Homo sapiens: one gene and its partner. The protein of the gene in region 1 interacts with the protein of each later gene in a biochemical or structural test. Each region holds a gene or a part of one and is shown in the gene's direction. Other genes may lie near its edges. The genes, in order: UNC119B and GNAT1.

Region 1 (3,970 bases):
TTCCAGGTAGCTCCTCCTCTCACCTCCGGCATTGCCATCAGCGCAGTCTGCCCTCGGTCTGTGTGAAGTCTTAAACCAACTGGAAGACACTTGAAAGGGTGGGGAGGGAGGGAGGTGCCAAGAGTGGAGGCACCAAGGAATGGGTGATGCTGCCAAGCTGAAGGGTCTGCTTTGTGGAGAGGCTGCTGCTCTGTCTGACTTCCAGGGTCTCAGCCAGCCCTCCTGGGAATAGACCAAGTTTTCAGCCTGGCAGTGCCTTCTGTTCCCATTTTGGAGGACAGACAAGCTTGCTCCACATCTCCTGGCTCCTCCCTTCTGAGTCTCATGAAATAGAATGAGTCAGCTCTGCTCATGGAACAGTAGTATCTCTTGAGGCCAGAGCAGGTCTTGTATTTTGTTTTTTTATTTCCAGACTTCTTTCGGGGAGGTTTTATAAAATGACAGTGGTGTTCCCAGCATATGTGATATGTGGTTAGACTTCTGATAGTATCAGCTTCCAGGGGCTAATCTGGCTTATGTTGGGAGGATATGCTTACGAATCAGCAGCAGCTTTCTAAAGGAGAGATTTGACTTTTCTCTGCACTGCACAGCCTGGAGGATTGGCTTTTGATGGGGATTTGCCTCCGAAGCTCTTTGTACATTTCTTGTTTAGGAGGGTTTTCCTATCTACCTTTCTACTGAAGTAGTTTCTGGAACTTTCCTGGTGGATCAGAGTTACGTAATGCAGTCTGAGCCTTCAGACTGCTAGTTAGAATTGTTTTAGGTGTTCAGAAAGGGCAAAATAGGCTGATGTGGCCTGTCAGAGTGATGTGTTCTCAAAAAAGTTCACTTGCACATCTGTGGGCTGCTTTTGTCCTCAGACCCTTAGTGGACAGACTCCACAAACCCTCTGATGAGACGATTGATGTGGCCAGGGTCCAGTTAGCATCAGTAGAAGGATGTCACTAGGAAAGGCCCAGGTATCTGGTAAGTGACTGTGAGGTGTCACAGTACCTGTGACAGGAGAGTGTCCTGATGTGCTTGGGAGAAAGGCCGTATGGGGGCCAGGGATGGAAGAGACAGTGTGTGGCCACAGAAATTCCTGTCCATCCACCACCAGTGCTGCTCCCTGTGTGGGCTTTAGGGCGAGTGGCCCCGAACCTTGGCCCAGTGCTTTGTCCCAGGCCAGAGTCTTGGCAATGCCACATGCTGGCAGCTTTCTCACTGAGAAGGTCCTAGCTTACCCCTGTGTGCTGGCCTTGGATTCAGCCCCGAGAGAGGGGAGAGACCATTCCTCCTGTGGAGTGGGTTCCTTATCACCAGACCGGCCACTCTCAGAACTGGCGTCCACTGTAAATCCAGGTGCCTTACGTGTGGCTCTGTCCCTTATGCTGCAGGGGAAAGCTGCATTGCCATTGTTCCCACCTCCTCACTGGCAGAAAGATGCCAGGGCTGTTAGCACTGTCTCCTCACCTTCTGTTTCTCATTGTGGCTCCTCAAATGGGATTTGCATGTTCCTGTCAAGCGTAACAACAATCCCTTCTCTCTTTGACAGAGGCCCAGGTGGGACAGTTTCTACTATTTGATATTTGAGTATTATCTGGGATGTGGTTCTGGAGCTGCCCAGAGCTGTGCTTAGTAGAGTGTGTCTTGGAAACATGCCCCTGGGCACACTGTATCTGCTACATTAGTGGGCTATCTCTTATCTGCAGTGTTCGCTTTTGCTAGAAAGAGGATGTGGAGGAAGGAGGAGGTGGGCAATCTGGCTTGAGTTGTGCTGTATCCTCTTCCTTGTTAGCTTGCCTTAGTCTCACTGGAGACCATTTGCGGATAGTGCTTGGTCCATGCCCAGCAGGACAGGGCTTTGCTGCTTCTGAAAGTCTGGTGTTCTGTATCTGGGGCTGTGGGTTCCTGTGTCTAGCTGCTCAGGAAATCTTGAGAAGCATTCCACTCTGGGGTGTAAACCAGTATGAGTTTGAAATTCAAGCGTTTGTACCTGAGTTGGGGAGAGAATTGCAAGGCATACTTTCTCTGAAAGTAACAGAACCATTCAGGCTGCCATGTTATTAAGGAATCTGAACTGTTGATAGCAGTTACCTTGTGGGTGATACAATGGGAGGCGGCAAAAAAACTACCTGCATAGGAGACCCTGCCCTTTGTCAAGAGCTGGGAGCACATTTCATCAGAGTAGCAGGCCCACCTGGTGCCAGAGGGCCTGCCCCTCCTGCTTCTGTTCCTTTGCCTTGCAGTCTCCTGGAGAGAGCCTCTCTTTTCCTGTACAGCCTTTGGGCCAAAATGCCCTTCTAGCTTCTCCAAAGAAGATCCGAGTTTATTTCATTCTATGTTTTAAGAGGTAAAAGGACATAACAAGTGAAAGAAGTTTTGGGCTAAAGTAGGCTATGTCTCCTTATGTATTACTCAATACTGTTTTGCAGAGAAAACATTTTTCAAGCATGTGCTTCCTGAAGACACCTCAGTCTTTGGGCCATTTGATTTCCAATACATAGGGTGGAAGAATGTGATTTTGGGGCTGACCATAAACTGGAAATTTGTGAAATGGCAGTGATTGGGCAATCTTCAGTTTATTTTTTCAGTTGAAGTGGAACTCATTTCTGGAATGGATTTAATAGGCTGTGTCTAATGTACAAACTGGGTGAGTCCTGCCTTAGTGTGTCCTGCCCCACCGGTACGCTTCCAGGATACTCTTTTCCCCTCTGTAAAGTCACTTTCTTCTGATGGCCAGTGTCACTATGATGTCAGTGAGGTCTGGGGATGAGGACAGTGTGTCCTGAAATTCACAGGACTGACTCCTCACCCCAGTGCACGAGGATTCCTGTGGCATCAGGTGCTGCTGTACCTGGTGTAGGAGCCTAATCATTGAACCATTGTGTTACTCACATTCCATGTCACAGAACATATCAGCCTCAAGAAGGATTTGGTGGAGGTGGATTTACCACTGGTTTTACAAAGGACCGTGTAAAGTCATTGAAGTTGTGAAAGTCTATTTTTTTTCCTGTAAATCTATTTTTTACAGAATATAAGAAACATCAATGACCTGATCTGTCCTTCCTCCTCCTTCCCGCTTCCCCCAAAATCACATTCCAGTTTTTATTGTCTTTGTGTCCAAAGTAAACTAGGTGACTTATTTGTATAAAATGTTATTTTGCCACATGAGACAGTAATAAAAGAAAGATTTTCACAGTACGTCTCCCTCGTCCTGTCTCCTGATTGTTGGGCCCGTTGTGTTGCTGAGGGGAGCAGGGGCGAATGGGGGCTCCAGGTTTCTCTTACTTTGGCTATTATGTGGCCCTTCTGTAAGTAGTTGAACTAGAGTATAGCTGGCTTCTAGGGTGATTGAGGAATTGTACTGGACTTTAGGCTTAATATTTTTGCTTTATATTTTCCCAGGGTGAGTGGCTTTGTAAATTGAAAGTTTACATGCATGTTTTAAAGGTAGGGTTTTTTTTTTTGAGATGGAGTTTCGCTCTTTTTTCCCAGGCTGGGATGTGATGGCATGATGGTGGCTCACTGCACCCTTCGCCTCCCGGGTTCAAGTGATTGTCCTGCCTCAGCCTCCCAAGTAGCTGGGATTACAAGTGCATGCCACCACGCCCGGCTAATTCTGTATTTTTGGTAGAGACAGGGTTTCCCCATGTTGGCCAGGCTGGTCTTGAACTCCTGACCTCAGGTGATCAACCCGCCTTGGCCTCCCAAAGTTCTGGGATTACAGGTGTGAGCCACTGTGGCTGGCCATAAAGGTAGGCTTATTAAGAAATACTTTAACTACAGTAAAATTTACCTCAATTAAGAGTATTGATGCATTTTGACAAATGAATACTTTTATTACCCATCACAATCATGATATAGGACATTTCCATCGTACCCACTCAGAAAGTTCCTGAGTTCCTTGTGTTTGCAGCCAGGTGACTTCCCCCACTTCGCCTCTTGCAACCACTATCTGATTCTGTCTCTATTGGAAAACTTGGATACT
Region 2 (7,355 bases), on another chromosome or scaffold:
TTCTAGCCTAGGCGACAGAGCCAGACCTTGTCTCAAAAAAAAAAAAAAAAAAAAAAAAGGAATTCTGTGTGTGCTTCAAATTTTCCTCATTGTACAGAACCTCCTTATGGTCATCACTCCTGAAATGGAAATCTGTACAGATGCCTTATTCAAATATCTCTCATTATGTAGAAACTTCATGTGGTTTTTCTGGCATATGGAAATCCCACATGGGTGCCTCTACACGGAATGGCCACAAAGGTGGTCTGATCTGGTTGCTGGCTAGGGCCATAGGGTGGTCACAGAGCCTCTGAACCCCCTCTCCTTGCCCCTGCAGATTCGTGCAGAGGACCGCTTCCTGCGCACAGAGCAGGGCTTGTTGCTCCGTGCACTGCAGCTCAGCGATCGTGGCCTCTACTCCTGCACAGCCACTGAGAACAACTTTAAGCACGTCGTCACACGAGTGCAGCTGCATGTACTGGGCCGGGACGCCGTCCATGCTGCCCTCTTCCCACCACTGTCCATGAGCGCCCCGCCACCCCCAGGCGCAGGCCCCCCAACGCCTCCTTACCAGGAGTTAGCCCAGCTGCTGGCCCAGCCAGAAGTGGGCCTCATCCACCAGTACTGCCAGGGTTACTGGCGCCATGTGCCCCCCAGCCCCAGGGAGGCTCCAGGGGCACCCCGGTCTCCTGAGCCCCAGGACCAGAAAAAGCCCCGGAACCGCCGGCACCACCCTCCGGACACATGAGGCCAGCTGCCTGTGCCTGCCATGGGCCAGCCTAGCCCTTGTCCCTTTTAATATAAAAGATATATATATATATATATATATATAAAATATCTATATTCTATACACACCCTGCCCCTGCAAAGACAGTATTTATTGGTGGGTTGAATATAGCCTGCCTCAGTGGCAGCATCCTCCAAAACTTAGACCCATGCTGGTCAGAGACGGCAGAAAACAGAGCCTGCCTAACCAGGCCCAGCCAGTTGGTGGGGCCAGGCCAGGACCACACAGTCCCCAGACTCAGCTGGAAGTCTACCTGCTGGACAGCCTCCGCCAAGATCTACAGGACAAAGGGAGGGAGCAAGCCCTACTCGGATGGGGCACGGACTGTCCACCTTTTCTGATGTGTGTTGTCAGCCTGTGCTGTGGCATAGACATGGATGCGAGGACCACTTTGGAGACTGGGGTGGCCTCAAGAGCACACAGAGAAGGGAAGAAGGGGCCATCACAGGATGCCAGCCCCTGCCTGGGTTGGGGGCACTCAGCCACGACCAGCCCCTTCCTGGGTATTTATTCTCTATTTATTGGGGATAGGAGAAGAGGCATCCTGCCTGGGTGGGACAGCCTCTTCAGCCCCTTCTCCCCTCCCCGCCTGGCCAGGGCAGGGCCACCCCACTCTACCTCCTTAGCTTTCCCTGTGCCACTTTGACTCAGAGGCTGGGAGCATAGCAGAGGGGCCAGGCCCAGGCAGAGCTGACGGGAGGCCCCAGCTCTGAGGGGAGGGGGTCCGTGGTAGAGGCCTGGGGCCGGTAGAGGCTCCCCAGGGCTCCCTTATGTCCACCACTTCAGGGGATGGGTGTGGATGTAATTAGCTCTGGGGGGCAGTTGGGTAGATGGGTGGGGGCTCCTGGTGGCCTTCTGCTGCCCAGGCCACAGCCGCCTTTGGGTTCCATCTTGCTAATAAACACTGGCTCTGGGACTAGACTTTGGCTTCTCTCCTTGGTCAGGGGATTTAGAGCCACACGTGGTGGGCCTGGGGAGCCAGGTGGGGGGCTGGGAAGGGAGTAGATTGGCTCCATTTAAAGAAACCCAACATGTAGAAACCACATTTAGTTTGACAAACCTGGGCTGCTGCACCACCCCAAACACTTGGGTAGTGCGAAGGGCTGTAGAGACCCCTCAGGGCCCACTCACTCCTCAGGGTCAGGGAGGGTGGGTGGAGCCTGAAGGCTGAAAGTGGCAGAAATGCAACGGCCTCACTCCTGGACAGATCCCCATCATCCAACAGGGTGGGTGTAGAAGCTGCCAGCCTGTGGTAGGAGCCAGCATTCACTTCCCACGCATACTATTTAGAGACAGCCGTTAGTGCTCAGTGTCTGGTGCCCCGGCACCCCCTTGTGGTCTCTTGAGTCTGTGGCAGAGTTGAGTGCTGAAAGGCAGCCAGGTTCCAGGGAAGAGTCCAGCCAGGAGGCTCAGGGTGCCTGGAGGAGCCTTTGAGAGCCCAAGATTTGGGTTTTCCTATGGAAGTTGAGGGTGGGAAGTCTCTAGAACCTGGGAGCTCAACCTGAACAATTTCTGCCCGGCAGTGAGCCCTGCACCTGAACAGAGCACCAGACCCCCTAAGCTGAGGCAGGCAGGCCCTGGAGATAATCTTAGGCAGGCCTCAGAGCACCCACAGCAGACAGAGCAGGAGCAGGATAGGTGAGCCCCATTCCTCCATACCCCAGGGAACACTACACCTGCTCTGGGATGCAATTTCTCCACCTGGCAACAGGCCTGCAAAACATTCTCTGGAAGAGCCTGGCCACTTCTGCAGATTAGAGACTTTGTTGCACCCAAATTCAAGTGTACATATAGGCACAGGCGCCTGCAAGCATGCATGCACACACACAGTCATACACAGGCAGAGATGGACATGCACAGGCACACATATGCTCAGGTACAAACAGGCATGTTTACACCCCTGCGTATAAGCAAGTGCACACATGCAAACCTACACAAACTGCAAAACACACAAGCCTATGTGTGCATGAAGAGAATACACAAAGCATATTCACACATGCATACACATGTGTATACATGTGCACACATACATAAGCATGCGCACAGGCACGTGATTCCTATAAGAGCACATGCACTCACAAAGGCATAAACATGCAGGCACACATGTACACACAGGTATTCATGCACAAATGTGTCAAGTTATTGCTCGCTTGGTGCCAGCAAAAGACACACCCATGGCCGGGCGAGGTGGCTCACACCTGAATCCCAGCACTTTGGGAGGCCGAGGTGGGTGGATCACAAGGTCAGGAGATCGAGACCATCCTGACCAACATGGTGAAACCCCGTCTCTACTAAAAATACACAAAAAATTAGCTGGGTATGGTGGCACATGCCCGTAATCCCAGCTACTTGGGAGGCTGAGGTGGGAGAAGCTTAAACCAGGGAGTTGAAGGTTGCAGTGAGCCAAGATCGTGTCACAGCACTCAAGCCTGGCAACAGAGTGAAACTCTGTCTCAAAAAAAAAAAAAAAAAAAAAAAAAAAAGGCCAGGCACGGTGGCTCATGCCTGTAATCCCAGCACTTTGGGAGGCCGAGGCGGGCAGATCACGAGGTCAGGAGACTGAGACCATCCTGGCTAACACGGTGAAACCCTGTCTTTACTAAAATACAAAAAAAGTAGCCCGACGTAGTGGCGGGCACCTGTTGTCCCAGCTACTCAGGAGGCTGAGGCAGGAGAATGGCGTGAACCTGGGAGGTGGAGCTTGCAGTGAGCTGAGATTGCGCCACTGCACTCCAGCCTGAGCAACAGAGCGAGACTCCATCTCAGAAAAAAAAAAAAAAAAGACACATACACCGAGGCACACAGAGCAGATATGCATGCCCACCACAGTCCGCTGGAAGCAGAGGACCTCCTTGGGGCAGCTCCAGCCTGTGATATGGGATGAATGCAATGCCCACTGTTTCCCTCTCTCTGGATTCCCTGCAGGTCATAAAATCCCAGTCCAGAGTCACCAGCCCTTCTTAACCACTTCCTACTGTGTGACCCTTTCAGCCTTTACTTCCTCATCAGTAAAATGAGGCTGATGATATGGGCATCCATACTCCAGGGCCAGTGTGAGCTTACAACAAGATAAGGAGTGGTGCTGAGCCTGGTGCCGGGCAGGCAGCAGGCATGTTTCTCCCAATTATGCCCTCTCACTGCCAGCCCCACCTCCATTGTCCTCACCCCCAGGGCTCAAGGTTCTGCCTTCCCCTTTCTCAGCCCTGACCCTACTGAACATGTCTCCCCACTCCCAGGCAGTGCCAGGGCCTCTCCTGGAGGGTTGCGGGGACAGAAGGACAGCCGGAGTGCAGAGTCAGCGGTTGAGGGATTGGGGCTATGCCAGCCCGATTAGAAGGGTTGGGGGGGCTGAGCTGGATTCACCTGTCCTTGTCTCTGATTGGCTCTTGGACACCCCTAGCCCCCAAATCCCACTAAGCAGCCCCACCAGGGATTGCACAGGTCCGTAGAGAGCCAGTTGATTGCAGGTCCTCCTGGGGCCAGAAGGGTGCCTGGGAGGCCAGGTTCTGGGGATCCCCTCCATCCAGAAGAACCACCTGCTCACTCTGTCCCTTCGCCTGCTGCTGGGACCATGGGGGCTGGGGCCAGTGCTGAGGAGAAGCACTCCAGGGAGCTGGAAAAGAAGCTGAAAGAGGACGCTGAGAAGGATGCTCGAACCGTGAAGCTGCTGCTTCTGGGTAGGGGTGTGGGCCCAGGTGGGGCCACTGCCACCAGGTCATTGGTCTGGAGGCAGGCAGGCAGCCCTTCTGTGAAGCAAGGATTCCCTGGGAAGCAGTATGAGCCTGTGACAGAGTAGGGCACAGGGTGGGAGCCCTGGCCAAGCAAGGCCAGGCCTGACAGGTGGTGTCCTAGTCCCCCAGGGCTGGACATCCCACAAAGCCCCTCTCCAGACGGCTCTGCCTCAGGTGACCCACCCTCCCCAGAAGTGCGTGCCAACCACACTCTTGCACGGGTGTGTGATGCCGACTTTTCCGTGGCTGGGTTCCCGCAAGCTTCATGCAGCCTTTGGTTTGATACGCCTGCTAGGCAATGCTCAGAAGCCAGGAGCCTCACTGGGAGCCCGTTATTGGGCTGCTACTTTGGGAAGGGGATGGCCATAGTCCTCCTGGGAGTGGGGAGCCTCTAGGACCACCCAGATCCACAACGAATGGCCCTCAGGTGCCAGAGGGCTGTGGCTGATAGACCTACAAAGCAGCCAGAGGGGCTGGCGGGTACTGAGGCCCAGTGGGAGTAGATAAAGCCGCGTCCACTGGACCATGGGCACTGAGGAGAGATGGGGCTGATCCAGGCCTGCCTCAAGGTCACTGCCTGACCTCTCAAGGGGAAAAAGCAGCTTCAAGAGGGGCTCCACCCAAGCTCCCCAGGGTCTGGTCAACCAGCTGGAGGTGGGTGAGGGACCAAGCCAGTCCCACTTTCCCCCAAGGCAGAGAGGCTAAGCCGGAAATCTCATTAACTGTGCCCAACGCCCTCGCAGGGGCAAGCTCAGAAAGGATGTCAACTCTGCCCTCCCTCCTACCCAAAAGAGCTAATTCCCTCTGAGCCTCCTGGAGACACCTGCACCCCTTCAGGTGAAATGCAAGGGGTTTACCCGCCTCAAATAACCCAGTGCTTGCGGTACCAGAGGCTCCCACGAGGTGGCGATGACGCTCCGGGATTTCTTCATTGCAGTCTCACAGCATAATAAAGGCTGCCTGTGCCGGGGTCTTGGGGACTCCCCTGTCCCAGAACAGTTGAGGTCGTTGAGTCCCCTCGTTGGCTTCCTTTCTTCACTTTCCTGGCATTTGCAAACCTTGTGACTTCAGGATGTCAGGACTTAATTTGGATGGGGGGGTAGGTGTGGCTACGGGGTCGGGGCTGGCGCTCAGGCCTCTTCGCTGCGGGTCCACCCTGCCAACTCGGGAGGTCCCCGTCCTCCTGGCCTCCTTGCTGGAGGGGGCAGGCTGGTCAGCGCAGCTCTGAGGCGCCGCGTCTCTTTCAGGTGCCGGTGAGTCCGGGAAGAGCACCATCGTCAAGCAGATGAAGTGAGTGCCCCTGCCTGTCCCGAGGCCCCTGGGTCTGGGTCCTTCCCCACTTCCCCACGAGGCGCTGATTCTGCTCTCCTCGGCCTCAGGATTATCCACCAGGACGGGTACTCGCTGGAAGAGTGCCTCGAGTTTATCGCCATCATCTACGGCAACACGTTGCAGTCCATCCTGGCCATCGTACGCGCCATGACCACACTCAACATCCAGTACGGAGACTCTGCACGCCAGGTGTGCCAGGAGGCGGGCTGAGCGGGCCTCTGGGGACTCGAGGCTCGCGGCTGGGCCCGAGTCCCTGGCCGCCACCAGCCACTCTCACCCTGCCCCCAGGACGACGCCCGGAAGCTGATGCACATGGCAGACACTATCGAGGAGGGCACGATGCCCAAGGAGATGTCGGACATCATCCAGCGGCTGTGGAAGGACTCCGGTATCCAGGCCTGTTTTGAGCGCGCCTCGGAGTACCAGCTCAACGACTCGGCGGGCTAGTGAGCGCGCGGGCAGCGCGGGGCGCGGGGCGCGGGGCGCAGGGGGCCCTCCACGCCTCCCCACCCACCTACGGCCGGGTCTCGCGCAGCTACCTCTCCGACCTGGAGCGCCTGGTAACCCCGGGCTACGTGCCCACCGAGCAGGACGTGCTGCGCTCGCGAGTCAAGACCACTGGCATCATCGAGACGCAGTTCTCCTTCAAGGATCTCAACTTCCGGTACGACCCATACGCTAGCCCAGGAGGTCACTGCCCCAGGCCCCGTCCTGCCCCGGGGACCCCATCCCTGCGATAGACCCTGCCCCTTCCCTGATACCCCGCCAGCAGAAAGGGTGGTAGTCCCGGCCGAGAGCTCCCCGACCAGCACAGGGCGAAGGGATGTTGCCTGTGGGGCCCGGGGCGCAGGTTCAGGCCCCCGCGGCCCCGCAGGATGTTCGATGTGGGCGGGCAGCGCTCGGAGCGCAAGAAGTGGATCCACTGCTTCGAGGGCGTGACCTGCATCATCTTCATCGCGGCGCTGAGCGCCTACGACATGGTGCTAGTGGAGGACGACGAAGTGGTGCGTGCCAGGCAGGGCCTGTGTTCCAGGGGGGCGAGGAGGAGCTGCTGGTCCCTGGAGGCGGAGACCGCGCGCTGGGCTGGGGGAGGGCACGGGAGGGGATGCCTGTCCCGGGCGGCCTGAGGAGGCCCGGAGGCGTTCAGCAGGCCCATCTGGGGCAGTGCGGGGAGCCCTCTGAGAGCCAGCTGAGCGGGAAGCCCCGCGTGCCCGGGAGCCCAGAGAGCAGGTGCTGCGGGTCGGACGCTACCCCGGGTGCCCAACAGCTGCTGCCCTCCTCAGAACCGCATGCACGAGAGCCTGCACCTGTTCAACAGCATCTGCAACCACCGCTACTTCGCCACGACGTCCATCGTGCTCTTCCTTAACAAGAAGGACGTCTTCTTCGAGAAGATCAAGAAGGCGCACCTCAGCATCTGTTTCCCGGACTACGATGGTGAGAAGTCCGCAAGGCCGCCAGGCGGCGCCCCCGCCCCACGATCGCGGCGCGCACCCCCCGCACGGGGAAGGAAGGGCTGAGCAGAG

What was found.
Region 2: the proteins of UNC119B (region 1) and GNAT1 interact in a biophysical measurement, tested with the Homo sapiens proteins (one study listed by IntAct).

Annotation. Positions count from the first base shown.
Region 1 is NC_000012.12:120,720,458-120,724,427, forward strand, and holds the end of UNC119B (protein unc-119 homolog B), read left to right. Parts: 3' UTR 1-3,183; downstream 3,184-3,970. UniProt on the Homo sapiens protein: Myristoyl-binding protein that acts as a cargo adapter: specifically binds the myristoyl moiety of a subset of N-terminally myristoylated proteins and is required for their localization.
Region 2 is NC_000003.12:50,187,389-50,194,743, forward strand, and holds the start of GNAT1 (guanine nucleotide-binding protein G(t) subunit alpha-1), read left to right. Parts: upstream 1-4,221; 5' UTR 4,222-4,337; coding exon 4,338-4,443; intron 4,444-5,744; coding exon 5,745-5,787; intron 5,788-5,876; coding exon 5,877-6,018; intron 6,019-6,117; coding exon 6,118-6,275; intron 6,276-6,364; coding exon 6,365-6,493; intron 6,494-6,703; coding exon 6,704-6,833; intron 6,834-7,112; coding exon 7,113-7,266; intron 7,267-7,355. Other genes in the region: SEMA3F (semaphorin-3F isoform 1 precursor), read left to right, coding at 317-727. UniProt on the Homo sapiens protein: Functions as a signal transducer for the rod photoreceptor RHO. Required for normal RHO-mediated light perception by the retina.